3 linked regions of the Homo sapiens genome follow. The protein of the gene in region 2 interacts with the protein of the main gene of each other region in a biochemical or structural test. Each region holds a gene or a part of one and is shown on either strand. Other genes may lie near its edges.

Region 1 (10,696 bases), on a different chromosome or scaffold from region 2:
GAGGTTGCAGTGAGCAGAGATCACACCACTGCACTCCAGCCTGGGCGACAGAGTGAGACTCCATCTCAAAAAAACAAAACAAACAAACAAACAAAAACTCTGTATTTCATACAAAGCTATTTCACCAAAAGCTGAAAACACTTTGTAACCTTATTTATGCAAAACATAAACCAAGATCAAGAGATCCTTATTACATAGAGAAAAAATGTGACATATTTCTTAGGAAAGAGAGTAGCTTCTTACCTGCCAGTGCTAGCTTATGGGCTTAAAGGAGATGGTTCAAAGAATTTCTGGTAACAGAAAGATAATAGGAGCTTGAAATACCCCTGTTGACATCTTGCGAATAAACATTGTGAAAAGGTCTTTGATCTCTTTGTCGTTAAGTCACTTGGAACATGCTTTTCTTGTAAAAGGTTAGTTCCAGTGTCCAAAACAAATTTTAGCTCATCTGATTACCTTCTGCTGATGTAAATCCCGTCTAGCATAGCCTGTATCCTAAGTGGTCCATCCTACAAAGTTCCTGCCGAAGCCTGACTGGGCTGGCCCACCTGCCCAGTGATGAGTGAGTCATCCATATCTACATCTCCTGCTCAAAGAGAACTCCACCATCCCAGATGTGAGCAGCCTGGAGGTGGTGACATTATCACCGTGTAACATACAATTTTGTTTTGCCTTGATCTCCAGGCATGAGGATGACGTTCAACACTTCAAGGTCATGCGAGACAACAAGGGTAATTACTTTCTGTGGACTGAGAAGTTTCCATCCCTAAATAAGCTGGTAGACTACTACAGGACAAATTCCATCTCCAGACAGAAGCAGATCTTCCTTAGAGACAGAACCCGAGAAGACCAGGTATGCTCCAGATCCAGTCGACCCCAATCTAGAGATTTTAGGCAGCCTGAGTTCTCACATGAACCACCAGGAAAAATGCATAGGATGGGTAGATCCTCTGAGTATACTGAAAGACAGAGCTCAGAGCTCTGAGGTCAGATCTCAACTTAACACTTCCTAGTCGTGTGACTTTGGAAAGTTCTCTGCGCCTCAGTTTCCTCATCCATAAAGTAGGGACAATGGTAATATCTACCTCCCAGAATGGCTGTGAAGGTTGGAGAAGATAATGTATCCCACGCCTCATGTCATTCCTCATCACACTGCGCTCAGCAAGCATCAGCTCTTACCACAGGTGCTGTTTTTTTGTTATTCATAGACATTGCTACACCAAAGTTTTCAACCTAGCTCAAGAGTTGCCCAAGGATGAAGGAGTTGGGGGTGCTACAGACAGGGACATTAGGGAACAGCCTAGAGTTCAGGAGTTAAATCAGCATGTGGAGTTTTATGATGGGATTGGGGGTAGGGAGGACATGGGAGGAGAAAACTGCACTTGGAATTATTGCTGTTGCAACTGTTTGCAATACAGACTATTGCTTTAAAAGGAAATGCGTCAGACAGACCTGGTATGAAATCCTGCTTTAATCGCTTAGCTACCTGTATTACCTAGCCAAGTTAAGAAACCATCTGAGTATCAGTTTTCTCATCTGTAGAATGGAGAGAGCAATAAAACCTCCCTCACTGGGCTGTTGTGAGGATTAAATGACTTAATACAGCTAAGCACTACCAGAGTCTGGTCCATATTAAACACTAAGAACATGTTAACTTGCCTCCCATAAGTAAATTCACACATGCACACACTCACACACACACACACACACCAATTTATGAACTATTTTTCAAAGGAAATAACATGGTTATAAGAGACAGGTATCATAGGAAGAAGCATTCACTAGAATAGCTGAAATCCTAGGGACAGGTTATTTGAAAAGATATTGAGACTGTGAAAGCAATGTGTGCTTTGGGGAAGTCAAGAAAATCCTCCTTTTTCGAGTCCCTAGTTGCTTTTAAGCCTGAGAAGTTACTGCCAAAGGAGAAAAGAAGTTACCACCAAATGCACACAGAAGTTCAGAAAGGAAAACAAAGGCTAGCCAAGACCTTGTGAATCACTCTAACCAGGAAACGGACAGAGGTATTAACTCACTAGGATGGGCATTCAGAGAAGCAATATAAAATTGCATTAAATGGGATTAAATGAGTTGATATTTGTAAAGCGCTTAGAACAGTGCCTGGTATATGCTGCCCTCAGGGTCCTACATAATTGTTTGTTAAATGAAACTAACAATACGGTATTTCTGATTTGTAAGGTTGTTGTAACATTAGGGAAAAAGGCCTTACTTCTTCCCCCACGTCCAGCCCGGCGGCAGGCCTGGTTCCCATGGTGTTGCAAGAATGTTGCTGTTTGGGTCTCTATCACCAGGCTGTAAATGACAGTTCAAAATCATGCAAAGTCAACAGTGGAGCTTATCTGGAGGGTAGATTGTCCAGTGGTGTGGCAACATGTGATAAGAAGGGGTGGCATTGTATCAGTAAAATGGAATATTTCAGCTTGATTACACAGAGAAAAAACGAGCGCCCTGGAAATGGACTAAATGGCTACCAGGCAAAAAGTGTTAGTCTGTGAACCAGAGACCTGCACTCCTAAAACTGGGAGGATCTGAGAATGCAGAGGCCACTTTGGAAAATGTGAAGGTCTAAAGCATCAATTATCTTTTAGCTGCCCCCACCCCACCAGCTATTTCTTGGAGCCAGATGAGCAGGGTCTGGGAACAACTGCCCGAGGGTAGGGTAGGGCCAGACGATCAGAGAGGAGGATGCATCTGCAGCATCTCTGTTCTTTCTCCCAGGGTCACCGGGGCAACAGCCTGGACCGGAGGTCCCAGGGAGGCCCACACCTCAGTGGGGCTGTGGGAGAAGAAATCCGACCTTCGATGAACCGGAAGCTGTCGGATCACCCCCCGACCCTTCCCCTGCAGCAGCACCAGCACCAGCCACAGCCTCCGCAATATGCCCCAGCGCCCCAGCAGCTGCAGCAGCCCCCACAGCAGCGATATCTGCAGCACCACCATTTCCACCAGGTATCTGGAAAGAAGGCAGTGGGCACAGTACGGTGGAAAGGAGAACCTGCCTCCCCTCCAGGCCTGGCCCAGCCTCTTGAGTTCTCAGAGAGTTCATGATGAAGACCCTGGACCCCCCCAAATGGCAGAAATAGGGAAACTGTTCTTGGCAAAGACATCTCTATGAATTAAATGGCTCCCACCTGAACACACACACACACACACACACTGTCTCACACACACACACACACTTAAACTCACACACACACACACTTCCCCTGAGGACCCAGTAAACAATTGCTTCATTTTCCTATCAGCACAATTCCAAATCTATTCATGCCCCTTAGCCCATCTGGCTGTCAGATCCACAAGAGAAAAAGGCTTAATACCCACAACAGAGCCTTGTTTATTACTTATTTATCTCCCTCCACCCTTGTTCCCGATGGGATTTCAGGCGGCTTACTGAGATGGACAATACGGCCAGATAACATCATTCCTGAATTCCTTAGCAGGGCACACAAAGTCCTTTGTGAGCTGCCAGAATCTATTTCCCCAGCCTCGTCCCTGCTGCCTCCCTGCCAACTCCCCGTGCAAACACACATTCCAGCAACCCCCCACGCTGCCTTAGTTACCCGAATGGTCCATTGCGTTTCCTCTCATGCCTTTGTGGCGTTTTATATGCTGATCTCTCTGCCTGATGAGCCCCTCCCTGGGCAGTCCTACCCCTCTAAGCTGGAGTTCAAGCATGACCTCCTCTGTGAAGCCTTCCTTGATTTCCCGGGCAGATACAGACATTTCTTCTCTCTGCTCACTTACCACTTAAATGTGCATGGTTCCCCCTCTAAATGGAAGCTCCATGAAGCCAGAGACCTTCTCTTTCCAGCTATATTTCCCTTGTGTCTGCTACTGGAAACATGGTAGGTGCCTGATAAATATTTCTTGACTGAATAAATAAAACCTGCCTTTGCCTTCTTTGCCTTCAGAATCTAAGGTGCCTTTAGACCTTAGGTCCTCCTCAACGTGGAGGGTTTATTGTCATTATCAGTAAGTATTCCTGGAATATACCGGCTCTGTGGATGGCATCTGAGCAAGGCACTGGGGGAACCGGTGGGAGATGTCCTGGCAGTGGGGTGACCAGTCTTCTGTTGTATGTTTCTAGGAACGCCGAGGAGGCAGCCTTGACATAAATGATGGGCATTGTGGCACCGGCTTGGGCAGTGAAATGAATGCGGCCCTCATGCATCGGAGACACACAGACCCAGTGCAGCTCCAGGCGGCAGGGGTATGGGAACTGTCCTTCTCTGGGATCCCTGGGGAAAGGCCTTGGGACAGAGGTCAATGGAGGAGATGAGGCAGGAGAGACTCAAACCACACAGATCTGGCTGGGCACGGTGGCTCACACCTGTAATCCCAACACTTTGGGAGGCCAAGGCAGGTGGATCACCTGAGGTCAGGAGTTCGAGACCAGCCTGGCCAACATGGTGAAACCTCACGTCTACTAAAAATACAAAAATTAGCCAGGCATGGTGGCAGATGCCAGTAATCCCAGCTACTTGGGAGGCTGAGGCAGGAGAATTGCTTGAACCCAGGAGGCAGAGGTTGCAGTGAGCCGAGATTGCGCCATTTTACTCCATCCTGGGCAACAAGAGCGAAACTCCGTCTCAAAAAACAAAACAAAACAAAACAAAAATGCACACACAGATCAACGAGAGGTGATGGAATGTTTGGGGAGGCCTGGGGCTGAGCCAGCACCGTCCAGTCTGTTGATCTCAGTCTGGTGCCAGGCCTTCCCTGTTCTCATAGTTCTCAGTTCTAGTTCTTTATCATCTTTATCATAGTCCTTTACCATTGCCTTTATCATTGCATCTTTTTTTTGTTTTTTGAGACAGGGTCTCACTCTGTCTCCCAGGCTCAAGTGCAGTGGCACAATCATGGCTCACTGCAGATTCAAACTCCTAGGCTCAAGCGATCCTCCTGCCTCTGCTTCCCAAGTAGCTAGGTATATTATTTGTAGCGATAAGCTCTTGCTATATTGCCCAGGCTGGTCTGGAACTCCTGGGCTCAAGCAATCCTCCTACCTCAGCCTCCCACAGTGCTGGGATTACAGGCATGAGCCACCGTGCCTGGCCTGTGATCCATCTTGACTTGTGACTTGATTGCCCTAACACCAAGGGCTGTTGTTTGGGGCATGTTGCCCTTCTGTTTGTCACTCAAGATAAAAATACCACCTATTGATGTGGAGAGAGTGGTTCTCAGGGAGTCTATTGGGGCTTTGGACAATAACATCTGTTGGTAAAAGTCCTGGGTCTCCAGAGTGACGCTGGTGCGTTCTGGGAACTTCTTGCTCAGGCCTGTGCATAGGTATCTGATTTAAATTGCAGCAGGGTAGCCGGGCATGGTGGCTCACACCTGTAGTTCCAGCTACTTGGGAGGCCAAGGCAGGAGGACTTCTTGAGGCCAAGGGTTCAAAACCAGCCTGAGCAACATAGCAAGACCCCATCTCTACAAAAAAAGTTTTTTTAAGCTGCAGAGGGGTCAGCCTTCAGGGAATGTTGCTCTCAAAGACTTGGATGTGGTGGGAGGAGCCAGCAGACCCTCCCCTGCCTGCCCAGCCCACAGCTCAGCAGAGCCTCTTCTGTGCTTCCCCCAACAGCGAGTGCGGTGGGCCCGGGCGCTGTATGACTTTGAGGCCCTGGAGGATGACGAGCTGGGGTTCCACAGCGGGGAGGTGGTGGAGGTCCTGGATAGCTCCAACCCATCCTGGTGGACCGGCCGCCTGCACAACAAGCTGGGCCTCTTCCCTGCCAACTACGTGGCACCCATGACCCGATAAACTCTTCAGGGGACAGAAGCTTTTTGTCTGGAGCTGCCCACAAGAAAGAGGGCAAGGAAAAAAGGCTGGACTCCATGACTATATATACATACATCTATCTACATCTGCCTGTGTACACACACAACTTTTTATACTAGTAATTTATTGGCAATTGGGCTGGTAATTAGTTGATGCAAAAGGGAACTCAGGTGGAGAATAATATTGACACTTGCTTTTCTGCCCCCCTCAGGGGTGTGTGGAAGGCAGTGGGGGAGTTGGGAGGGGGGCAGGGAAATGAAATGGAGTTTTGTCCTGGCCTTCAGCTGTCACTGCTTCCTCCTTGTCTTGGGAATTTTCACGGAGAACAGCTAAGCAGAGACCACACCTCGGCACTGGACACAGAACAACAGGGTGGGGTTGAACTTGGTGGGGCACGTTCTAGCTGACCTGCAAGCCCCGCTCACCTGGAGGGCTTGCAGAGCAGCTCTCCTCCTGTTCTCCAAGGGGTGGGCACTGTTGCATTAGGAATTAAGGTGCAGCCCAGTGCTGCGGGCAGCCAAGCGAGTCTGAGCGGGGATGTGAAGGCAGGACGGGGTTGGAGAGACCCTGCCTGTGCAAGGCTGGCCTCCTAGTCAACACCTAGCTGAGACATTCATCTCTGTTCAAATTAATATTCCTTGGGTCTTTCAAATGAATGTTTCAATGTGAGGAGCGAAGTACTGGGAAATCGAGGGATTTTCCACAATCCCCAAGCAGCTTACTCAGTGGAACCTCTGTTTCCCCAGCTATGAAGGAAATAGCATCCTACATTCCGTAAAGTGCTTGAAGAAGCTCTAGCTGAGAATGCTGAATTTTACAGTCATTGTTTTATGGTTACAAGGGTATGTCTTCAGGGCTCTGTTCATTTTCCCTCTTGATTTTCTCTTTTGAAGATGCCTTGCCCAGTGGCATGGAAAGAAGCCCACTTGATGATAGGAGCCTGACTATGAATTGATTGACTAAACATGACCCCAGGTGGAAGCTGGCTTTGACACCAGCTTCCTGTTCAGTCTGACCACTGCTGTCCTCCTGCTGCCCAAGAGTTGCACCTGGAGCAAGGAACCCCACCATGGCTGTCGCTCTCCATCCCATCACGCTAGAATCATGTGTCCAAGGGCTCACTCTGGAGGTGCACAGCACAGGTCAGCCTGGCCAGGGGCGAAGGAGACAGTAGAGAGGAAGCTCAGGGCCTTAGGGGAGGCCGGGTGCAAACCCGTTCTGCACCAAGTGCACTCGGAGTTTGTGGGTATGGGTGTGTACCCCTGCAGGTGTGCACATGTGTGCTTGCACGCACATATTTGTGCACTCCTGTGTGTATACATGTGTGCTTGTGTATGCATATGTGTGCATTCCTGCATGTGTGGACATGTGCGTGCATGCATCTGTGTGTCTGTGTGTGTGCTGAGACAGGAAAGGGGGTGAAAGTGTTGGTGAGGGAGCCTGGAAGTTTTCTCTTCCCCAACCTCTCTTGCTCTAAGGAGGGATGGGGTTGGGGGCAGCCGTTATTGAAGGTGATCGGAGAAGAAAGATTTTCTGACTCAGAAGTGACTGCCAGTGTAGCACAAGCAGTGTCCCTTGTGACTGTGATTCTACAGTTCTCTGATCCTCATGTTTCCTTTAGAGGAAAGAGGAAAAAAGGAACTCTGTGGTGGGTATTGGGAGGGAAAAGAAAATAGCCTGGTGGAGGCAGGAGGGAGTCGAGTGTGAGTAAGGAGCACCTGCAGCTTTTGGAAGTGAAAGCAGAGAGAGGGAAAGGTAGCTAAGACATCCAGGAGGATCAAGGGGCAGCGTGAGAGGCACAGGGGGAGGAAAGGGAGAGGGTGAGTGGGGCCAGGGAAGAGAACGGTGTGGAGTTGGTGGGCAGATGGTGCAGGAGGAGGGCTGGGCAGTGGGGAGAGGAAGAATCAGAGCAGAGAAACCGCTGCTGCGGAAGGCAGGGAGCAAAGAAGCATAAGGAAAAGAACAGGAGAAAGAACAAAGGCAGAGAAGACCTCCTCAGCTATTTTGGTGCTAGGTAATGTGAAATGCTGCAGTAAATAAAAGCCATAAGTAATGTTTGATTTTACAGTATTTACAAACCATATGCTTTAAACAGCCCACAAACTCCATCCAGTTGTCTGATGATGTGGGAGGACCAGCTCTAGTTAGACGGAGGTATGTGATTCGATTCTGGTGGAGACTTTGTGCCTTGAAAGGCTTCTCAGGAAAGCAGTAATAAAACAAAGTGTCCTTGTTTGGCCAGGCCGTGTCTGGTGTCTGCGTTGCATACCCCTCAGGTAGAGAGTGAGAACGAGACCAGGGGGTGACAGGGGTCATCGGCCTGCAGGAGCTGACCCCGTAGGCAGGCGGTATGAGCAGAGCTTTCAGAACCCCTGGAGCTCGGTGTTCTGTTGTAGCAAAAGCTACTGAAGAGTATTTTGTACTGAGATGCCAAAGCATCTTTCCCTTGCTCATCAGCCTCCATTCAGAAGGAAGCGGGAAAGTCACCCAAACCACCTACAAGGAATGAGGGCTCTTAGCGGCCAGGTAAAGAGGACAAGAACCAAACTGTCCACATTATGGAGGGGAGGGGGAAAGAGAGCTCAACCCCCCTCAGCCTCTGGTGCTGCCAGGGGGAGCCCCTCCGCATGTGTCCCCACGGGCCCTAGTTTCTACCTGACAGCATTTCAGCACCAGAGGAGGGTTGAGCCAGCTCCTCTCACCAGCCACAGAACCAGCAGCCAACAAACACATTGTCCCCGAGTTTGGCTGCAACACTCTATGTGACTTGGGAACTTGAAGCTTCCAGAGAAAAGCCAGGTCCTGTTGGACCAGTTGTTGGGTTTTCCTAACCACTTGCTGTGCCTCACCGCATTTCAAATATCTGGCACCTGCCACTGCCCACCCACTTTTAGATGGCCCTAGGGTGATCTAACCATGGTGCTTCTCAAAATTTAAAGTGCCTACGAATTGCCTGGGGACCGTGTTGAAATGCAGCTTCCAACTTGGTCCTGAATTTCTAACAAGCTACTGGGTGCTGTTGCTAGGTCCACATGTTAAGGAGCAAAGGCAAAGAACTTAGCAGTGAGCACAACTCTAATTGGGCTCTTCTTCTGAGGATATTCGGCCATTTTTTCTTCGCTGCTAACGAATAGGTCACTTTGGCTTTGGGACAGATGCAATTCAGAACGGTCATTATGACGTCATTCATATTTGGCTACCCAGGTGACTTATTATTTTAGCATCCTTATCTCTAGAATTAAAAAAATGTAATGTGAGAGGAATTCAGATGAAATGCAAACAGGAATTTCCTATAATAATTACTATTTCCTAATAGTAATTATTTTAAACATCAGCAGAGATTGCAGAAGTTGTAAAAGCTTTGTCAGGAAATCTTCAGTCATAAAATTGACTCTGGTCAGATGTGGCCCTGGTTGAGGCAGGGGACTGTGCTCCCAGCTAACCTAAAACACAACAGCCCACACTCGGGACAGATTAGCATGGCCAAAATATTTACTGTTTGCCTTGTCTAAGCCAACATTTTAGCCCCTCTATACCAAGGCAAGTGTGTGAGAAAAACCTTGATTGTCTCAATGCTTTTTAAAAAATGCCTCCTCAGTTCCTCCACTTTACTCCATCACCTTGGCCATGCCACCATCATCTCTTCCTTTGGCAACTGTCAGCTTTCATACCTTTCTCCCTGCATTCTCTCCCGTAATCTGGTCCTCCACACAGATGCCAAAGCGATCTTTGTAAAAATAAATCCGATCACATCACTCCCCTTCCCACTGGATTTAGGCTTAAGTCCAAAGTCCTAATGTGGCCCTGTGAAGTCCGGCCCCTGCCTCCCTCCTCAGCCTCCTCTTCTGCCTCCCCTGCCCCTTGCTTTTATGCTCCTGCCCCACTGGCCTTTCAGCCTCCAAATGGCCAAGGATTTGTCCCCAAACCTTTCACACTTGCCATTCTTGCTACCTGGAGGCACATCCCCTGCTAACCCTGCTAACTCTTGTTCATCTCCAGGTCTGGGTTGGTTTTTTGTTTTCTGTTTTTTGTTTTTTGTTTTTGTTTTTGTTTTTGTTTTTGTTTTTGTTTTGAGATGGGGTCTGGCTCTGTTGCCCAGGCTGGAGTGCAGTGGCACAGTCTCAGCTCACTGCAGCCTCTGCCTCCCAAGTTCAAGTGATTCTCCCACCTCAGCCTCCCGAGTAGCTGGGATTACAGGGTCATGTCACCACACCTGGCTAATTTTTGCATTTTTGGTAGAGACAGGGTTTCACCATGTTGGCCAGGGTGGTCTTGAACTCCTGACCTCAGGTGATCCACTCACCCTGGCTTCCCAAAGTGATGGGAATATAGGTGTGAGCCACCATGCCTGGCCCAGGTCTGGGTTTAAATGTCACTTCCAAACAGTCCTCCCCTGCCCTCTAATCTAAAATAATCCTTCCCCTAAGATGGTCTTATGAATCCTGTGCTTTTCCTGAATAGCACGTACACAGATGATGGTGCCAGACTGAGCTGTATGGCTATTACAGCTCACTGCAGCCTCTGCCTCCCAAGTTCAAGTGAACTTGGAGCTGTAAGCTCCACGGAGCAGGGGTCACCTCTGTTTTGTAAACCATTGTACACCCAGCATCTAGCACTATGCAAGGCACACAGAGGCTCAGTAAATATTTTTCTAATGAAGGAATGATTGGACCTGCTTCATCTCATCTATTTACTCATTTTGTAACTCAACTGTCTTGGGCCTAACAGACCTGTAGATGCAAACAAGGTCATATTTACAATGATGTCCAGGTTCCAGTAGCTTTAGCCACTGTCTTCGGATTCTCCTCCAGTTAACTTCTGAGAGGCCAAGAGAGGGAGGCTGTTATCTCTCACGTGTTTAGGCACCAGTATACTCACGCTTCCTACTCTGGTTCCAGT
Region 2 (10,696 bases):
AGTTATTTTATTAAGGATTTGTATGTACACATTTATTACATTATTTTTGGGGCAATTGTAAACATGAAACTCAATTTTCTAAACAAAATAGTTTTTGCAATGAGCAATGAACAGCAAAACTAGCTCAGAACCTCAGCATGTTTAGAGTAGGCTACAGAATGCATGCAAAAACCTGCCTTTTGGCAGACAGATATGACTTGCCAGGCAATAGTGCTAGGACCTTACATAAATGTGAAAACTAACGTAGAGCCATTCACATGTTTTAGAACTAATAGCTTACTTAAAGTAATGAAAACTTTAAAAATCTGTTTATTTGAACAAGTTCTTTTGCTAAGTTTTCAAGATAATGTTTTCAAAGTTCAATTGTCTGTCTTCTTAGTACATCTTCAATTGCTTTTCTTCCTTTTTTTTTTTTTTTTTGAGTTAGGGTCTCACTTTGTAGCCCAGACTGGAGTGCAGTGGTGCATAATTATAGCTCACTGCAGCTTCAAATTCCTGGGCTCAAGTTGTCTTTCTGCCTCAGCCTCCTGAGTAATTTAGAATTTCTTCCTTTATCATCACTCAAAAATCTTATATATATTTTTAGAAACTGCTCATGTTAAAAAAAATTGTGTTTGGAAATTACCGGAAAAAAATAGAAGAATCATCTATAATATCAGCACTTAAAACATTATATAGAAGTTCATGCCCTGTACCCATTTAATTCCATACTTGAAGATACCCAGGGTTAAAAATGTAGTGAGTATTCTCCCTCTTCCCTGAGTTGATGTGCGTATATCTACATAAAGCACTCTCCTTTCTCTGATGATGGACAGTGGATCTTTTCTGAGCATGCACTACAACTCACCTCTCTGCTTTAATGACGCCATTAGGTTTTTTCATCCTGTCTCCCATATCTTGCTTCCCTAGGCTATTTCTGAGGCATCACCCCTTTTCTGCTGTATTGCTTTCTTCTGCCTTCCCTTTGAGGCTTTTGTCTTTTCTGTACTTCCATTCCTTGCAGCCTCTCAGACCTGCTGAGTCCAGGTTGTGGAGTGATAGTGACTTCAGGAGCTCTGAGCATCTGTAGGAAGTAAGTACAACCTGTGCAGACTTCATGGCTACAAGAGCCTCCAAAATCCAGGAAAGAAGCAGGGCCCAAGGCATGTCCACTGCTGCTTAGGTGTCCTCATTCTCAAAGGGTTCCCAGTACAGGAGCCTGCCAGGCATGCCCCCTCCTTTGTTATTTATTTCAAGAGCATAGGCAATTACCATCCAAATGCAAAGTGAGTGAGTGGCCTCTACTAGCCTAGGAAGGAATCAGGATGGCGGAGGCAGAGCAGGTGTAGTCAAAGCTTATAGGCTGGCAAGACCTAAGGTGTTCATTGTTTCTCCTTCTGAAATTACCAAGTTTTAATGTCATGAGCAAAACATCTAACATAGAGGTTTGAAGTAGCTTGCCACAAATTCAAAATACAATCTTCAGAGGTTCAAGGTTTCCAAGCTTTAGTGCACCACTGAATGGTAAGAAACCCTGACGTCTATCTTACCATTTATTTGAATCTTTGAGTTCTTACTACTTTTATTTCTTTGGGGTTTCTGTAGTTCTCAGCCTTTCTTCCATGCAGACTCACACATGAACATACCAAGATTTTAACACACCCCACCCCCCAACGACAAATTTGAGGGAGAGTAAAGTATTAAAATAATGTGTGATCACATTTATTAATGGTTCAGCAGTAGAGTTCACTATGGGCTTCAACATAAATTTCTTACACTTCAGGTTTATGCTCATTTCCCACCCTTTCCTCTTCTGCTCAGGAAAACACTGAAATGCAAGTGAGATTTACATTATTATAGGGATAACCTTGAATTTGATCCAATTAATTTTGCAAAAAGAGATCATTTATGAACTCAGTAGTGTGCCTCTTATCAGTAACACACTGCTTATACCACGTCTTATGACTAATCAAGACCCACCAGGGTGTTGTCTCCACCTGTGTGGAGGCCACATGGCAAGTAGAGGGTGAGTTGTTTAGAGGGTGGCTAAAATGTTCTCATCTTCTGGCTTCCACCTATACTCACACACTTAAAGTTTCAGGGCCCGTGGGTTCAGTCTCTATGTACATTGCCAGTGGATGAATGCAGAGGTGGTAGGATGTACCTGTAACACTGCTGGGAGGGAGTCCTGGTCCTCATAGCACAACCACATCAACAGACTGGCAAGTGCACAGATCCATGACATCTCAGTAACTAAGACATGTTCCCGGGAAGACTTCTGATCAAATTTGGTTCTTCTCAGCTGATGTTGCTGGGTTTTGGGATGAGGACAGACATTTCACTCTAATCCTAATATGATAATTTTCCTGATCCAGAAAAACCTATACCTGCTGAACGCCACCGAGGGTCAAGTCACAGACAAGAAGCTGTGCAGTCACCAGTGTTTCCTCCTGCCCAGAAGTAAGAATCCTTTCCTTTAAAGATCAGTTTCCTCTTGTTGCTGCAGGAATTAACATGTGCATTGTTTCACTGCACAGTGACACTGACTTGCAGTGCTAGGTAAAAATCCAACATTTCATTGTTTTGCAGTTACGTGTTAAAAGGTGTTGAGCAACTTTAAAATAACTGTGTAGAGTTGCAGAGACCTACTAATTGGGTTAATTATTGAACTTGACTAAAATACAATACTTTAGTCAAGATTTCCTCCTTTTTCAAAACTAAAAGGAAGAGTCTTACTTATCTTTAAGGTTTTGGTGGCTCTTTTATCTTTAGATACATTTTATTGGCCATTTGTATTGATTTATTTGTGATGTGCCTGTTCACAGCATCATCAGTGTAAACAAAAAGTCAAACTTACTCATATTGTGCTTTGTCCTTTAATTATCTGAAATTCTTTCTTGCAGACAAATCCACCAAAAACCCATACCTCTGCCAAGTAAGTACAACGAAGCCATGTAGTGTATCAGGGAGTGGTCGAGGCTGGATCCTAGAGTCTGATAGGCCTGGGTTCTAACACAGCACTGTCGCTTCCAGCTGCGTTATCCTGGCATCTTCTCCCACTTGTTTCCTTACCTGTAAAATGGGGCCAAGAATGTTTATTTCACAGAGTTGTTTTGAAAAGTAAATATATTTGAGGCAATTTTTACTTTTTTTAGTAGCGATTTAATATTTTACTGATCATGCATCCTTTTTTAACTTTTTTTTTTTTTACAAAAACAATACAGCTGTTTTCAAAATAATAAGATCAAGTAAAACAACATATGGGAAGCACCAGCTATAGTGTTTGGTTCTAAACAAATAATACCGATTTAAATTAAGTCAAAATATATTTTAAAGATCACAAAATATGTCTACAAAAGGTACCTTAAAAAGAAGATACGGCAAATATCTGGATAATTTTTCCAAGGCAAACATCACCCTAAAAATATATGAATCGGATAAGTCAGGCTCACAGAACGTAACTGCCCAAACCTTAATTTGCCTGCAACTCAATGTGGGAAAAAAAGGAAGAAAAAAACTCTGCTTTACATAGATAATTTGGGATATATTCCAAAATAATAAAGCTTAAATCCATTTAAATAAACAGTAATTGTCCACATGCAAAATTTTTATGCATTTTTTTTACTAAACATAAATTGGCTTTTTAAATTTTTAATAATATTCATCTTAAATAAATGAAACTTTTACTAGTTTTTAAAAAAAATTCTGACAACACAAAGTGAAAATGATTTGGCTACAGAAATTTATTTTTCATTATTTAAAAAGGTTTATTATACCTTTTACCGTTTTTCAAACCAAGTCATTCATTCAGTTGTTAGTGACCATATGCCGTGTGCCAGGCATTGTTCTAGGCACAGGAGATACAAGGATGAACGAAACAAATAAAGACCCTGTCCTCATGAAACTTATATTCTACTGAAGGAGACAGAGAGTAAAAATAAACGCACAAATAATATCATATCAGGTAAATGCTGAAGTGCTATAAAGAAAAATACAGCGCAGCAGCAGGGGTGGGTGGCAGAGAGTAACGGAGGCAGGGAGGGCTGCTGCTGTAGACAGGATGGTCTGAGAAGGCCTGTTCTATAAAATGGGCATAATAGCTCATTCCACAAAGAGCTGGTGAAAGGACGAGATGCACGCATGTTGAAAACAGAATAGGCCTAGCACATTCGGGTGTCAGAAAATATTAGCCATGGGTACTCTTCCAACTGCCAGAACTGCAGAAACCACAAACTGCCCTGCACTGTGCACCTAGGGAAAGTCTGTTCACTCACTCACCTTTGCTGCTCTCACCTGGGAGTGCTGTTCCCCTCCTATTAGAATACATCCTTCCTTTTGGCCCATCTTTGTTGGGCCTGCCAAGCCCTCACTGCCCCCTCCTCTTACAATGGTGGCTGCCTTCTCTAAACATCCAGGGCACTATTATCTGAAGCACTTAGTTTATCCAGAATTCTTTCTCCTGCAGATTTCCCCATCTTAATAAAGGACAACTCTGGTTGCTGTTGTCAAAAACCTTAGAGTCACCCTTGACTTCTCACTTGCTTTCTTCACACACCTTCCAGCTATTCCTTCAAAATAGATCCAGAATCCAACCACTCTCACTGCTTCCACTGCTGTGATCTGTCCAAGTCACTGTCATCTCCTGCAAGAACACCGAACTGGCCTCCCCCACTCTGCTGTTGCCACCCTCTGTTTCCAGCCCAGCAGCTGGAATGACCCTGTTAAAACATAGGCAGATCATGTTACCCCCCTGTTCAAAACCCTCCAAAAGCTTCCCTTATCATGTTCATTACAGCTCTTGAGTCATGTTAAGGGTCCACCAAGTCCTATAAATCTGGTCCCTTCATTGCCTCCTGTCTGACTGTATCTCTTACTCTTCTCCCCTTTTCTTACTGTACTCCAGGCACAGTGGCACCCTTGCTATTCCTTAGATATGCCAGGCCTTGCCTTCACAGCTCCCTCTACCCGGGACATTCTTTCCTGGGATGTCCAGTGCCTCCTCCCTCTCCACCTGCAGATCTCACCCACATATTCTTCCTTTCCTGATTTATTTTTCTTCATAGCATTTATGACCCTCTAACATTATATATATATTTTTTACTTATGTCTTTATTGCCCATCTCAATCCATTAAAATTTAAGTTCCAGGAGAGCAGGGCATTTTGCTGTTTTGTTAACTGCTGTATATCCCCAATGCCTTTGATCCATGGCAGAGAAACAAGAATGAATGAATGAATGAATGAATGAATGAATGCAGATAAGTCTTTTTCGTATTTCACATGTTTCCACATTTAGACTGTAAACTCTTTGAGGGAGTTGATGCCTGAAGTCAGCAATTCTCAGACATTTTGGTCTCAGAACCACTTTAACACTCTTAAAATAATTGTAGACCCAAAGAGCTTTGGTTTACATGTTTCTATTGATACCTAGTATTTTAAGAATTAAAACTGAGACATTTAAAACATTTATTAATCCATTTAAAAATAATATTAAACTCATTACATGTTAACATAAATAATATTTTTATGAAAAATAACTATATTTTCCAAACAAAAACAATTTAGGGAAAAGAGTGGCATTAGTTTACATTTTGTAAATCTCTTTAATGTATGTTACTGCAACATAACAGAGACTGCTGGATTCTCATCTCTGTTTCTACATTTCATCTGTTGCAATGTTTTTCTGGTGGAACTACATGAGGAAAATTGGGTTTCATAGTGATAGGTAATTCAAAAAGAAAAGACCTCTTGAACCACCTGAAAGGATTTTCGAGATTTCCAGGGGTCCTTGGACCACACTTTTGGAACCATTGCCTTAAGGATTTTTTTTGGTGGATGTGTCCCTGGCAGCACCTAGTACAGTGTTAGGGGATAGGCATAGAAAGAGTTCAAGAAATATGAAGATTAATTGAAGGACTTTTCTGATCCCTTTCAGGATTTACAGAAGGGGGAAACCCAACTGTGGATGGGCCCCTACCCAGCTTTTCATCTAATTCCACTATTTCAGAACAGGTATGAAATGAACTCTTGATGTCACTAAATTGTTACCAGGAAACTGCAGGAAAGAGCATGTCTTCTGAGAAGAAGACATTTGGAGTGAACCTTGAGAACAGAGACTGTATTTTACATCATTATGTGAACTGTCATTTGGTAATAGGGACAGAATACCCAGTTGTTGTTTTTTTTCAATGACTAAGACATTGCTCCAGTTAATGTTTCCTCAAAACTAGCAAGGAAATGTGTTTTCATTATTCTTCCTCTCACATAGATTTTATTTAAACTTTGTAATTTCCTCCAAATAGATCTGTAGAGGCTGATGATATTAAATCACATATAAGACAGCACAGTTTATAAAGGGACAGAGAAAGGACTCTGTGTGCCCTTGGGCAAGTCTTTCTAAGTTTCCATACAAATATATGTAAAAATGTAAAATACGGATAATAGCATGTGTCCTTCTTGCCTTCAAAGAAGGCATATATCCTTTCTTGCAAGAATCAAATAAAATAATATTTGTAAAAATGCTTTGGAAATTGTAAAGCACTCCACAAAGTAAGAGCAATAAGAGCACAATGGAAAGGGGGATTATTACTTATTTAGGAGAAAGAAAGAAATAATTCAGGAACCTAGCTAAGGCCAAATGAAAAAAAAATACAAAAAACAAGTTAACGGTATAATCCTTGTGTTTGATCAAAGGAAAAATAAAACTCATCTTAAAATTATTGGTGTAAATGTAGAGGCCTGTCTTGATAATGCAAATGGGTCTTTGTTTCTAGTACACAGAAATTAGAGTTAAGTAGGGACCATCCCATGCTGACCAGTGCCCTCCATTTCACAGGAAGCTGGCGTTCTCTGCAAGCCATGGTATGCTGGAGCCTGTGATCGAAAGTCTGCTGAAGAGGCATTGCACAGATCAAACAAGGTCTGATCATTTTTATTATTTATTATTTTTATTTTATTTTATTTTATTTATTTGTTTTGAGATGATGCAGTTTCACTGGAGTGCAGTGGCTCGATCTCAGCTCACTGCAACCTCTGCCTGCCTCCCAAGTTCAAGTGATTCTCATGCCTCAGCCTCCCAAGCAGCTGGGATTACATGTGTGTGCCCCCAAGCCCGGCTAATTTTTGTATTTTTAGTAGAGACGGGGTTTTACCATGTTGGCCAGGCTGCTCTCGAACTCCTGACCTCAGTTGATCTGCCTGGCGGCCTTGGCCTCCCAAAGTGCTGGGATTACAGACGTGAGCCACCGCGCCCGGCCAAGGTCTGATCATTTTTAAATCACACGTTTTGCCCTCAGCCTGTAATAGACACAGTTGTCGTCCTTATGATATGCTAATTAAATAATTGCAACAAGTGTAGATACAAGGATCTTTTTCCTTTACTTACTCAAGAGAAACTGCTATCCCCTCCTCTCTTTCAAGTTCCTCCATCTCATTTCTACTTGTCCTTTCATCTCCTCAAGGACCCACAGCCTCCACTGCCCTCCAAACAGTGGGAGACGAGAAAGCTCCAGGGGAGGTCTATGGAAGGCTTGGTGCTGCATGAGCTCCACTGAGGAGTGAACAGTGACAGGCTATTTTGGATCAATGTGCAGGATTAAAAATTTGAGTCAAGATGGCAAACAAACAAACAAACAAAAAATACCTGGAAGTAAATGTTTGGAGAGCCCAACTTCAATCATGTAGGAACACCAGGGACAGCTTGGACAATTCAAGATTAAAGTGACACTTTTTCTTTCTCTCTTCTCCTCCCATTTTCTTTTTCTTTGTTTTCTTGCACTCCACTTTGTCAGAATATATAGCATTTACATACTGTTCTTCCTCACCCTTGTTTTAGTCCTAGCTCTACAAGTAAATATATTAGTGTGTTCCGTCAGTCCTTTGGTGGACTTCCACCATTGTCTCTTTCCTTTGATGAAGTGTACCTGTAGTAGATTCTGAGGAAAAATCGTGTTTACATTATTCCCTGAGTTCCTTTATATTCAAAACTATTTTCTCAGCCAGGCGCAGTGGCTTATGCCTGTAATCCTAGCACTTTGGGGGGCCGAGGTGAGTGGATCACTTGAGGTCAGGAGTTTGAGACCAGCCTGGCCAAGATGGCAAAACCTCATCTCTACTGAAAATAAAAAAATTAGCCAGGCGTGATGGCGGGCGCCTATAATCCCAGCTCCTCCGGAGGCTGAAGCAGGAGAATCGGTTGGGCCTAGGAGGCGGAAGTTGCAGTGAGCCGAGATCATGCCACTGCTCTCCAGCCTGGGCAACAAGAGTGAGACTGCTGTGGGGGAATAAAAAGAGAAAGAGAGTTAAAAAACTGTTTTTTCATATCCTAGTAGTTGGAAGAAATCTTGGCTGGCTATAAAATCCTTAATTTGAGTTTGAAAAGTGTTGCTCCACTAGATTGTGTTGTTCTGTATGAAGCTCTTGAGAAGTCTGATACCAATGTGACTTTCTTGCCCTTCTATGTAATTTGATACTTTAGTCTGGTGGCTCTGCAGACTTTTTGTTTTTAAAGTCTAATCATTTTACCAGAATATATCTCTGAGTTGATAATTCCAAATCAATTTTCTCAAGTAGACAGAAGCCCTTTCAATACGTAGATTTAAGTTTTCTCTTATATCCAATAAGTTTTCTTAGATCATAGTCTTAAAGGGTTGTTCTGTTCCCTTATTTGTTTTTCTTCTGCAAGCACTCAATTTACATGCGTTTTGGATCTTTTTTGTCATTTTTTCTCCCATCACTGTCTTTGATTCTATGGTACTTATTTTATTAAATCCCATTTTCTCTCCTGGTTGTTTCCACACCTTCCTTCAAGTGTCATTTCTTAAATCTTCATTTGAAGCTCTCGTCCCTTGGACATCTTATAATTTGTTCTTTGTTGAGATAGGCTTGTCTTTTTCTTCAGTTTGTTTCCTGAGTTTGATCAACTCTTGTTGCATTTCATTCTGCTTTTTGTCCATCTTTTGTTCGTAATTTTTTATTTTATGATTCTAAATATTTTTATTAAAAAATTTAATAAAATTTGAATTACTGTCTTACAGTTTGGGGATTTTTTTTTCTTTTTCTTTTTCTTTCTTTTTTTTTTTGATGTTGTCTCGCTCTGTCACCCAGGCTGGAGTGCAGTGGCACGATCTTGGCTCACTGCAAACTCCGTCTCCTGGGTTCACGCCATTCTTCTGCCTCAGCCTCCCGAGTAGCTGGGACTACAGGTGCCCGCCACTATGCCCGGCTAGGGATTTTTTTTCTTATAAAAGTTCTTTGAGGAGAGAATTTTCATAATGAGGTCAGTCTGACCCAAGATTTTAGTCCAGGGGCAAATATAAAATGAAAGTTTTGATTCCCAACCTCTGTTTTCTTCTTATAGTACTTATGAATGGAATTTGTTTGATACATTTTTTTTCATAGACAACTGGTGGCTATGGTTCCCAGTTCAAGAGAGTCCTCTAGATTTGATCTTAATGTGTCCCTTCACATATTTCTAAATTTTATAAACATAAAACCTTATTTAGCACATTAAAAAGCTAGCATTTAGCTGGGCATGGTGGTGCATGCCAGTAGTCCCAGGTACTCAGGAGGCTGAGGTGGGAGGATCGCTTGAACTCAGGAGTTCCAGGCTGTAGTGGACTGTGATTGCACCACTGCACACCAGCCTGGGCAACAAAGTGAGACTGTTTCTAAAAATAATTAATTAATTATTACCTTTTTTTCAAAAAAGGCAAGCATTGATCTCACTCAGGATTTTCTATGAGTATATATTTTCCTGGACTATTTTCTTAGAAAATAAGAAGACAAGCGCTAATCAATAATAAAAATAATGTAGCTAAATAATTTACCTTTGGAATGTAATATAGGTGTTCTTCACAAAATGATTTTTTGAACCTGTAGAAATATAAGTAATACTAACCATAATTATGTTTTTTAAAAAAAATTAAACAGGATGGATCATTTCTTATTCGGAAAAGCTCTGGCCATGATTCCAAACAACCATATACACTAGTTGTATTCTTTAATAAGCGAGTATATAATATTCCTGTGCGATTTATTGAAGCAACAAAACAATATGCCTTGGGCAGAAAGAAAAATGGTGAAGAGGTCAGTGATTTCTTTTTAAATTCAATTCTATAACTATGCATTGAGTATAATGACATCAAATACTGTATTAGATGCTAGAGATGAGGAGAAAGGATACAAAAGTACTTGTTCTAATGCTTGCATAAATGTCATAGAGAACAAGATAAAATACTATATTTAGGCAGTATATCCTATAAGAACACAGAAAAGGAAAAAGTCATGTGATGTACATGCTAGTCCTTTCATTCAGTTATTTAATGAGGTCAGTCTGACCCAAGATTTTAGTCCAGGGGCAAATATAAATCAAGGTTGAAATGTCAAGTTGAATTAAGGTTGTAAGAATTAGGGTCAAGTTCCAGACCTCCAAAGTCAAGACCTAAAATCTCAACTCAAGTACCAAGGTAGGTTACCAGGGAAGGATCCAGAAGAGATGCAGAAACTTGAGTTAAAACATTAGACTATAGCCCTTGTACCAGAATGAGCTTATGGGCCTGGAGCAAGAAAAAAAAATCACATGGGTCTTAAATATTAATCAAACATTAACTTTAATGCCTCTTTAATCTGGACCAAACTCAGTGCTTACCATATCTCAGTTTAGCCAGCCTGCTCCTATAAATGAACCCTGAAATATGAGCTGGAGTAACCCATGAATGG
Region 3 (9,330 bases), on a different chromosome or scaffold from region 2:
TCCAGCCCCCTCCCCATCCTCCCTGGGGTCCCTGACCTGGGGCTGCTGCTCCTGAGGTCTCGAGGAGGCTGTAGGCGAGCCTGTGGGGTAGGAAAAGGGTCAGCAGTGGCCTCAGGGAAGCAGGCGGTGTGGTGGGGAGTGGGGGGACAGCATCTCACGGTGTTGGCTGGGGGTCTGGTCTCCATTCCTCGGAGCTTCCTGAACTCCATGTGCCGCCCTAGGGTGGGTGGGGGAAGATAACCTGCTGTGAGCTGGGGGCAAGGGGTAACGAGATGGGTTTAAGAACAGAAAGAGTAGAATTGGCGGGGGGGTTGCAGTCAGGATCTTGGGGACTGCAAATGATCTCAGGGAACTGTCCCTTGGGGAAAGGGGTCTTGGATTACAGGGACTTCATTTGGGGGTCAAGTTTGGGATCAAGACCAGGTGCAGTGGCTCACGCCTATAATCCCAGTACTTTGGAAGGCTGAGGTGGGCAGATCGCTGGAACCCAGAGTTTGAGACCTGCCTGGACAACTGGGCAAGAACCCATCCCTACAAAAAATGATTAAAAATTAGCCAAGTGACTGGGCACAGTGGCTCACGCCTGTAATCCCAGCACTTTGGGAGGTGAGGCAGGCAGATCACCTGAGGTCAGGAGTTCATGATCAGCCTGGTCAACATGGTGAAGCCCCGTCTCTACTAAAAAAAAATACAAAAATTAGCCGGGCATGGTAGTATGCGCCTGTAATCCCAATTACTCTGGAGGCTGAGGCAGGAGAATCGCTTGAACCCAGGAGGCAGAGGTTTTGGTGAGCCAAGATCGCACCATCGCACTCCAGCCTGGGCGACAGAGTGAAACTCCGTCTCAAAAAAAAAAAAAAAAAAAAAAAAAAAAAACATTAGCCACGCGTGGTGAATAAGCCTGTAGTCCCAGCTACTCAGGAGGCTGAGGTGGGAGGATTCCTTGAGCCCAAGAAGTTTGAGGCTTAAGTGAGCTGTGATCACACCACTGCACTCCAGCCTGGGTGACACAGCAAGATCCTGTCACAAAAAAATAAACAAATAAATAAGTTTTGGGATCAGGAAGTTGGGGGCTCAATGTAGTTACAGGGTGTTTTCAGGATCCGTTTGGGTATTGAGGTTCTGATGAGATTTCTGAGGTCTCCCTGGGAACTCTATGGTCATTTTGCTTTTGTTTTTGTTTTGTTTTGTTTTGTCCTTGAGACGGTCTCGCTCTTGTCACCTGGACTGGAGTGCAGTGGCGCAATCTTGGTTCACTGCAACCTCCACCTCCCAGGTTCAGGCAATCCTCCTACCTCAGCCTCCCAAGTAGCTTGGACTACAGGCGTGCACTACCACACCCGGCTAATTTTTGTATTTTTAGCAGAGACAGGGTTTCACCATGTTACCCAGGCTCGTCTTGACATCCTGACCTCAGATGATCTGCCCACCTTGGCCTCCCAAAGTGCTGGGATTACAGGCATGAGTCACCACGCCTGGCCTCTACGGTCATTTTGTAGTTCAGGTGCTGATGAGATTGTCTGGGGTCTCTTATAGGATCAGATGATGCTGAGGGTCTCTGGAGGCCTGATGGTAGGGGAAGGTGGTCTCTTAGGTCTATTATAGGGTCAGGTGTCCCCAAACATAAGGATTCTCTACTCACGACAGCAGTCTGCATCTGGGATCCCCAGAGAGCTGGAGCGGTGGGTGGATCTGATCCGCCGAGGGATAGCAGGGGGTAGCTGGGCAGAGGGGCAGCCACGTCAGGGCTCAAGACCCCCAAGCAGCCTCCTACCCTGCCCGGGGTCCATCTGCTCTCTCCTGTAACCCTCTGGGCACACAGCCTTTTACCAAGCTCCCCATCCTCCCTCCCTGTTTTCCCCCTAAGAGAGGCAGCAGGAAGGCACTGCTGGCAGCAGGCACAGCCTGAGAAAGACCGAGAGGTCCCCAGTGCTCTTGTCAGCCAAGGCTCTCACCTCGGGCTCCTCATCCTCAATGTCCCCAATGGAGGGTCCTTTCCCGGGATTCTTCAGTTTGTCAAGAAGATCCAGGATCAGGCCTCGATTCAGCCCAGGCTGGGATACCAGTTGATGCTGGCGGAGGGAAGAGGTGTCCGTATCCAGAGGGATGGTGTGGACAGAGAGGGCTGGTGTGGACAGAGAGGACTGGTACAGGGCCTTGGGGACTGGACTAAAGGAATCTAGCTGGGGAGAAGGTGCCAGTGAAGGCAGAGGGCGGGGAAATCCAGGGAACTCAGAGGCCTGGGGTATTCTTTTTTGTTTGTTTGTTTTAAGACAGAGTCTCACTCTGTCACCCAGGCTGGAGTGCAGTGGCACAATCCAGGCTCACTGCAACCTCCACCTCCTGGGCTTAATTGATTCTCGTGCCTCAGCCTCCCGAGTGGCTGTGATTACAGGCTCGTGCCACCACGCCCAGCTAATTTTTTTTTTTTTTTTTTTTTTTTTTTTTTTGAGACAGGGTCTCGCCCTGTCACTCAGACTGGAGTGCAGTGGCACGATCCTGGCTCACTATAGCCTCCGCCTCCTGGGTTTAAGCAATTCTCCAACCTCAGCCTCCCAAGTAGCTGGGATTACAGGCGTGCGCCACTATGCTCAGCTAATTTTTGTATTTTTAGTAGAGACGGGGTTTCACCATGTTGGCCAGGCTGGTCTCAAACTCCTGACCTCAAGTGATCCATCTACCTCAGCCTCCCAAAGTGCTGGGATTACAGGTGTGAGCCACCATGCCCAGCCGACCGGTGGGAGTCTAAGACATTTTTAGGAATTAGAAGAATTTAGGTTTCTCAGAGCGGGGCTAGGAGAATTCCAGAGTTGTCTTGGAAGAGACTGTGGTTCCCTGGGGATTCAAGAGGACACTCAGGACAAGTCTTGAGTCCTTTGGGAATTTGTCAGTTCCGGCAACTCGGGGTATTTGGGAAAGGTCTGGGGTATAACCCGGAGGGTCTCTGGTGGTCGGGGGTGGTCCTGGGAAATTCTGAGGCACTAGGGACTTTGGAAAGGCCACGGGGACTCCATGGAACAAAGTTATCCATGTCCTCGGGAGTTGTGGAAGGCCCCAGGGAATCCTAGGCTGAGGATCTTGGGGAAGGGAGGGTTACACTGAGCATCTTGGTGGCGCTGGGTCGTTTCTTGGGACTCTTAGTCAGAGTGACTTTGATGAAGTTGTGGAAGGCAGCCGACCTTGGGAAGAAGAAGCCAGGTTCTGGATGAGGGGACCAGAAACCCTCCCATCAGGCCACCCAGCCCCAGCCCTGCCCTCTCTCACCCTCCCTCCTGTTACTCTCTCGTACCATTTGCCTTTTTCCTTCAGTCGGGGAGGCTGGTAGCCACTCTTGGTCATGAGGAAGAGAACTCTAGAATAGTAGGGAAAGGACATGGGGTTCAGACCCTCAAGGGGGCCAGACCTCATGGCTTGAGGGGTTCCTAGTAGCATTGTGGTCAGCAGAGGGCAAAGTGAGAAACAGCATGGAAGTGAGGTTCAGGTTTTACAGTGCACCAGGGTGCCTCTCCTAAGGGAAGCCATTTATGAAGTGATAGAGCTATGGCAAGGCCAGGTGTGGTGGTTCACGCCCGTAATCCCAACACTTTGGGAGGCCAAGGCGGGAGGATAGCTTGAGCCCAGGAGTTGGAGACCAGCTGGGGCAACATAGTGAGACAAAAAAAAAATTTTTTTTTTAAATAGCTGGGTGTGGCAATATGGGTCTGTAGGACCAGCTATGTGAGAGGCTAAGGCAGGAGGATCATTTGAGCCCCGGCATTCAAGGCTGAAGTGAACTACGATCGTGCCGCTGCACTCCAGCCTGGGTGACAGAGCCAGATCCTGTCTCTAAAAATAATAAGAATTAATTAATTAATTTAAAAAATGTCTGGGCGTGGTGGCTCACACCTTTAATCCCAGCATTTTGGGAGGCCAAGGCAAGTGGATCACTTGAGGTCAGGAGTTCAAGACCAGCCTGGTCAACATAGTGAAACCCCGTCTCTACCAAAACATACAAAAATTAGCCAGGCATGGTGGCGTGCACCTGTAATCCCACACTTGGGAGGTTGAGGTGGTAGAATCACTTGAACCCTGGAGGCAGAGGTTGCAGTGAGCTGAGATCTTGCCACTGCACTCCAGCCTGGGCAACAAGAGTGGGACTCCATCTCAAAAATAAATAAATAAATAAAAATAAAAATAAATAAATAGGCTGGGTGCAGTGGTTCACGCCTGTAATCCCAGCACCTCCGGAAGCCAAGATGGGCAGATAACCTGAGGTCAGGAGTTCGAGACTACCCTGGCCAACATGTTGAAACCCCGTCTCTACTAAAAATACAAAAATTAGCCGGGCGTGGTGGTGCACACCTGCAGCCTCAGCTACTCGGGAGGCTGAGGCAGGAAAATAGCTTGAACCCAGGAGATGGAGGTTGCAGTGAGCCAAGATTGTGCCACTGCACTCCAGCCTGGGCAACAGAGCAAGACTCTGTCTTAAAAAATAAAAAATAAAATAAAATAAAATATTAAATTAAATTTAAAAAATAGAGCTGCAGCACGTGCAAAGGTAGGCTCAAGTGGTGATCCCTGAATTGGAGGTTCCTGGGATGGAAGGCGGAAGCTGAGGGTGGGCTTTGGGCCAGGGCTAGACAGGATCTCTGGGCCTGGGGACCCCACGCCTGCCTACCTGAGAGGGTGCACATCAAAGAGCGGTGGCTGTAGCTCGGCCAGTTCGATGGCCGTGATGCCCAGGGACCAGATGTCACACAGCTCATTGTATCCTCCCTTCAGGGCCACAGCTGCCACTTCCGGAGCCATCCTGGGGGCAGACACGCTCAGAGAGCCAGAGGTGGCATGGGGACAGGAAGGGAAGGAGGGGCAGAGAAGGAGAAGGAGTTGAGGGGAGACGCAGCACACAGAGAGTCAGATGGAGAGACAGAGGGACAGGAGTAAAGACAGACACAGGCAGATGAAGACAGAGATGCAGACGGGGCGCGATGGCTCACGCCTGTAATCCCAGCACTTTGGGAGGCTGAGCAAGGAGAATGGCTTAGGCCCAGGAGTTTGAGACCAGCCTGGGCAACTTATCAAGACCCTATCTCGGCTGGGCACGGTGGCTTTTGCCTGTAATTCCAGCACTTTGGGAGGTCAAGGCGGACAGATCACCTGAGGTGAGGAGTTCGAGACCAGCCTGACCAACATGGTGAAAGCCCGTCTCTACTAAAAGTACAAAAATTAGCCGGGCGTGGTGGCAGGCGTCTGTAATCCCAGCTACTTGGTGGCTGAGGCAGGAGAATTGCTTGAACCTGGGAGGTGAAGGTTGCAGTGAGCTGAGACCATGCCACTGCACTCCAGCCTGGGCAACAGAGCAAAACTCCGTCTCAAGAAAAAAAAAAAGAACGAAAAAGAAAAAAAAAAAAAAACAACACCATCTCTACACAAATTTTAAAAATTAGCCAGGTGTCATGGTGCACACCTGTGGTCCCAGCTACTTGGGAGGCTGAGGTGGGAGGATCTCCTGAGCCCAGGAGTTCTAGGCTGCAGTGAGCCGTGACTATGCCACTGCAATCCAGCCTGGGCCACAGAGTGAGACCCTGTCTCTAAAAACAAAACAAAATGAAAAGACAGAGAGGCAGAGACAGAGAGTGAGAGAGACAGAAACAAAGAGACAGAGAGCACTGCAAACTGAGCTAGAGGAAAAAGACAGAAATGGATATGGAGGGACAGAGAAATCAAGATAAAAATCAACACAAACACCGAGAGCAATGGCCAGAAAAGGGCACAAAGAGAGAGGAAAATGGAAAACTCAAGCGACACCCAGAGAGAATGAAAGAATCTTCCAAGGAGAAAGGACGAGGCAGGGGAACGGAGCCAGGAAAGAGGATCCCGGGGAACCAGGGTAGGAAAAACCACTGACCCCCACTCCACCCCTAGCTGCCCGCTGGGCGCCACTCACCAGTAGGGTGTCCCAATGAAAGAGAGGCGTCTGGCCAGTGTAGCCCCAATCTGGGCCGAGATGCCAAAGTCAGCTGGAAGCAGAGGGAGACATAGTGATCTGGGGTCCACTGCGCTTCCGGCCCCCCAGTCAGCCCCCCTGCTCAACCCCCAGCCTTACTCACCCAATCTGACCTCCCCAGCATCATTGATGAGGATGTTAGCTCCCTGGGAATGAGAGGGGATATGGGAGGCTGCAGAGACTCTCCCCAGCCCAGTGCTAGCCCACTCCGCCAGCTCAAACTACCCTGATCCCTGAGCCCCTGAAATGCCACTCCCATCTCCTGGGCCCCACCCCCCAACAGCACCCCTACACCCCCAGACCACCTTGATGTCCCTGTGTATCTTCTTCTGTGAGTGCAAATAGGCCAGTCCCTGGGGAGAAGGGTGGACAAGGGGACAGTGAGTGTTTGGGGGCTGGAGTGGGGCCACCCTCCCCTCCCATCCCCAGAATCCCCAGGCCTCTCCTTACCTGGAGCACTTCCCGGCAGACATAGCTAATCTGGAGCTCTGACAGGGAGCCTGTCACTGCAAAGGTCACCCCGGCCAGGCCAGGCATTGGATGGGAGCCAGGGAACCTGGGCTGGGGAGTCCTGCCCCCCCACACCAGCTAAGAGGGTGCCATAGGGAGAGGGGAAATAGGATAGGACCAGTGGGAGGGGGAGATGGTGGGGTGGTCAGTGACAGAAAGAGGCAGCAATGCAAATAAAAGAGGCCAATAGGCCTGGCGCAGTGGCTCATGCCTATAATCCCAGCACTTTGGGAGGCCAAGGTGGGTGGATCACTTGAGGTCAGGAGTCCGAGACCAGCCTGGCCAACATGGTGAAACCCCATCTCTACTAAAAAATACAAAAATTAGCCAGGCATAGTGGTGCATGCCTGTAATCCCAAGTACTCAGGAGGCTGAGGCAGGAGAATCGTTTGAACCCAGGAGGTGGAGGTTGCAATGAGCCGAGATCGTACCACTGCACTCCAGCCTGGGCAATAGAAGGAGGCTCTGTCTCAAAAAAAAAAAAAAAAAAAAAAAAAAAGGAAAGAAGGAAAGAAAGAAAGTAAGCAAGATAAATAAGTAGAATATGATATAGTTCCTCAGACGCTGATAGACAGCAAGAAGAAACATAAAGCAAGAAAGGTGCGCGTAGGAGGAGCTATGACATTTCACAGAGGTGGTCAGTCAGGGCTGCTCTCTGAAGGTGACAGTGGGTGAAGACATGAGGGCTCCCACTCTGAGTGGGACCAGCCACAGCAAGTGCAGGGCCCCAGGTGGGATAGTCCCTGGTGGGTCTGGAAAGCAGCAAAGGGGGTGGGGTGGAGTGGAGGGGGAGGAGGAAAGTGGGAGGAGGTGAGATTGGCCAGCATGGGGTGGACCCTGATGAGGAGTCTGGGCTTCTCCTCCGAGAGAAATGGAAGCTGTAGGAGGGCTCTGAGCAGGGGCGTCATGTGACTTTGCAAAATAAGGAAAGGCACAGAGACAGAGAGAGACAGAGAAACGGAGACAGATCATACATGAGACATACAAAAGGAACAGGATTGAAAAAAACAAAAAAATGAGACAGAAGACAAAGACAGAGGTCAGAGGCCAAAATATGGGGAGACAGACAGATTTAGAGAGAGACCCAGAGGGTAACGAGGTAAGAACAACACACAGGCAGAGAGACAGAGAGACAGACAGACAGAGAGAGGCCGTCAGACATCAGGTCTGACAGACCAGCTGTGGGATTCACTTCCTCTCTTTGGGCCTCAGTTTCCCTCCTGAGGACTTCTCAATGACGTCCTTCCTTTTCTAACATTTGAGGTCTAGGGCTGGAAGGAATCAGAGGTTTTCCGCCTCCCAGAATCAAACGATTCTCCTGCCTCAGCCTCCCGAGTAGCTGGGATTACAGGCGTCTGCCACCACGCCCGGCTAATTTTTTGTATTTTTAGTAGAGGCGGGGTTTCACCATGTTGGCCAAGCTGGTCTTGAACTCCTGACCTCAGGTGATCCGCCCACCTCGGCTTCCCAAAGTGCTGGGATTACAGGCGTGAGCCACCACACCAGGCCCAGCAGTTATATTAAAAAAAAAAAAAAAAAAAGCCAGGCACAGTGGCTCAAGCCCGTAGTTTCAGCACTTCGACAGCTGAAGGCAAGAGGATCAGCTCAGCCCAGGAGTTTGAAATATGGCCCAGAAAGACAGTTCCTGTGAGATACACACACAGAGACGGAAGAGGTGAATTTGGGTCGGGGTTGGGGGGTGGGGATAGGGAGGGGTGCTTGGGTCCCGTTGTCCTTTCTCTAACCTTGGTAGATGTCCTGGAGAGAACCAGCCCCACAGAATTCCATGCAGATCCAGAGTTTCTGCAACCTGCAGTGGTTCAAGAGTAAGAATAATAATAGCAGTAAATACATTATTATTTGCAGGAAAGCCCCTGGTTTGCTTCTGTCTTGTTCTAGTTCAATAAGAACTTTAACGTAACAGCTCTCATCACTCCACCTCTCCTTGTCTACCAGAGTGAGGTTGTTTCATTCCCATTTTACAGACAAGGAAGTTAAGGCTCAGAGAGGAAATGTGAGTTCCGGGGCAAGTCAACTCAAACCTAGGCCTTTGGGCGGGACCCCACTGCCGTCCCACGCCAACCTAGGAGGCAGGGCAGAGATCTCACGGGTTGTGGAGATTTGGAGGGGACAGAGGGGCCCAGGGCACCTGTTCTGGGGAGCAGAGGTCATTATTGGGGCATCTGGAATATTAATTTGGGGATCAGGGAATTTAGGAGTTTATATTAAAGGAGCAGAGAGTGAAACTGGGTGAGCCAAAGAGCAGAATGGTGAGAGCTTCGTTTCAAGGGAGTTGATTTCAAATTCAGTTACTATGAAGAGATCAATTTGGGGTACTCTTGGTCAGAAATGGGAATTTTAGATTGGAGATTAGATTAGAGGCTGCTCTGGTCAGAAAAGTGGGACTTAGGAGTGAGGATCATGGTAGGGTTAGCCCAGTCAAAAATGGGGGTCCAGGATGGGAGGTCGGGTTATGGTGAGAAATGGAAGTTCAAGGTTAGAACTGAGGGTGCCAAGACCAGGCGCGGTGGATCACACCTGTAATCCCAGCACTTTCGGAGGCCGAGGCGAGTGGATCACAAGGTCAGGAGTTCAAGACCAGCCTGGCCAAGATGGTGAAACCCCATCTCTACTAAAAATACAAAAATTTGCCGGGCAGGGTGGTGAGCGCCTGTAATCCCAGCTACTCGGGAGTCTGAGGCAGAGAATTGCTTGAACCCAGGAGGCAGAGGTTGCAGTGAGCTGAGATCATGCCACTGCACTCCAGCCTGGCAACAGAACAAGACTCCATCTCAAAAAAGAAAAAGAAAAGAAAAAAAAAGAACTGAGGGTAC

What was found.
Region 1: the proteins of BLNK (region 2) and GRAP2 form a complex in vitro, tested with the Homo sapiens proteins (one study listed by BioGRID).
Region 3: the proteins of BLNK (region 2) and MAP4K1 form a complex in vitro, tested with the Homo sapiens proteins (one study listed by BioGRID).

Annotation. Positions count from the first base shown.
Region 1 is NC_000022.11:39,965,306-39,976,001, forward strand, and holds the end of GRAP2 (GRB2-related adapter protein 2), read left to right. Parts: intron 1-684; coding exon 685-853; intron 854-2,736; coding exon 2,737-2,967; intron 2,968-4,105; coding exon 4,106-4,228; intron 4,229-5,599; coding exon 5,600-5,779; 3' UTR 5,780-8,416; downstream 8,417-10,696. UniProt on the Homo sapiens protein: Interacts with SLP-76 to regulate NF-AT activation. Binds to tyrosine-phosphorylated shc.
Region 2 is NC_000010.11:96,196,275-96,206,970, reverse strand, and holds part of BLNK (B-cell linker protein), read left to right. Parts: intron 1-1,679; exon of another isoform or gene 1,680-2,354; coding exon 2,355-2,439; exon of another isoform or gene 2,440-2,882; coding exon 2,883-2,914; exon of another isoform or gene 2,915-3,051; intron 3,052-3,342; exon of another isoform or gene 3,343-3,397; intron 3,398-5,912; coding exon 5,913-5,989; intron 5,990-6,812; coding exon 6,813-6,896; intron 6,897-9,907; coding exon 9,908-10,063; intron 10,064-10,696. UniProt on the Homo sapiens protein: Functions as a central linker protein, downstream of the B-cell receptor (BCR), bridging the SYK kinase to a multitude of signaling pathways and regulating biological outcomes of B-cell function and development.
Region 3 is NC_000019.10:38,607,954-38,617,283, forward strand, and holds part of MAP4K1 (mitogen-activated protein kinase kinase kinase kinase 1), read right to left. Parts: intron 8,307-9,330; coding exon 8,242-8,306; intron 6,493-8,241; coding exon 6,437-6,492; intron 6,340-6,436; coding exon 6,292-6,339; intron 6,133-6,291; coding exon 6,090-6,132; intron 6,000-6,089; coding exon 5,927-5,999; intron 4,790-5,926; coding exon 4,658-4,789; intron 3,353-4,657; coding exon 3,290-3,352; intron 3,180-3,289; coding exon 3,098-3,179; intron 2,073-3,097; coding exon 1,956-2,072; intron 1,722-1,955; coding exon 1,643-1,721; intron 218-1,642; coding exon 159-217; intron 81-158; coding exon 37-80; intron 1-36. UniProt on the Homo sapiens protein: Serine/threonine-protein kinase, which plays a role in the response to environmental stress. Appears to act upstream of the JUN N-terminal pathway.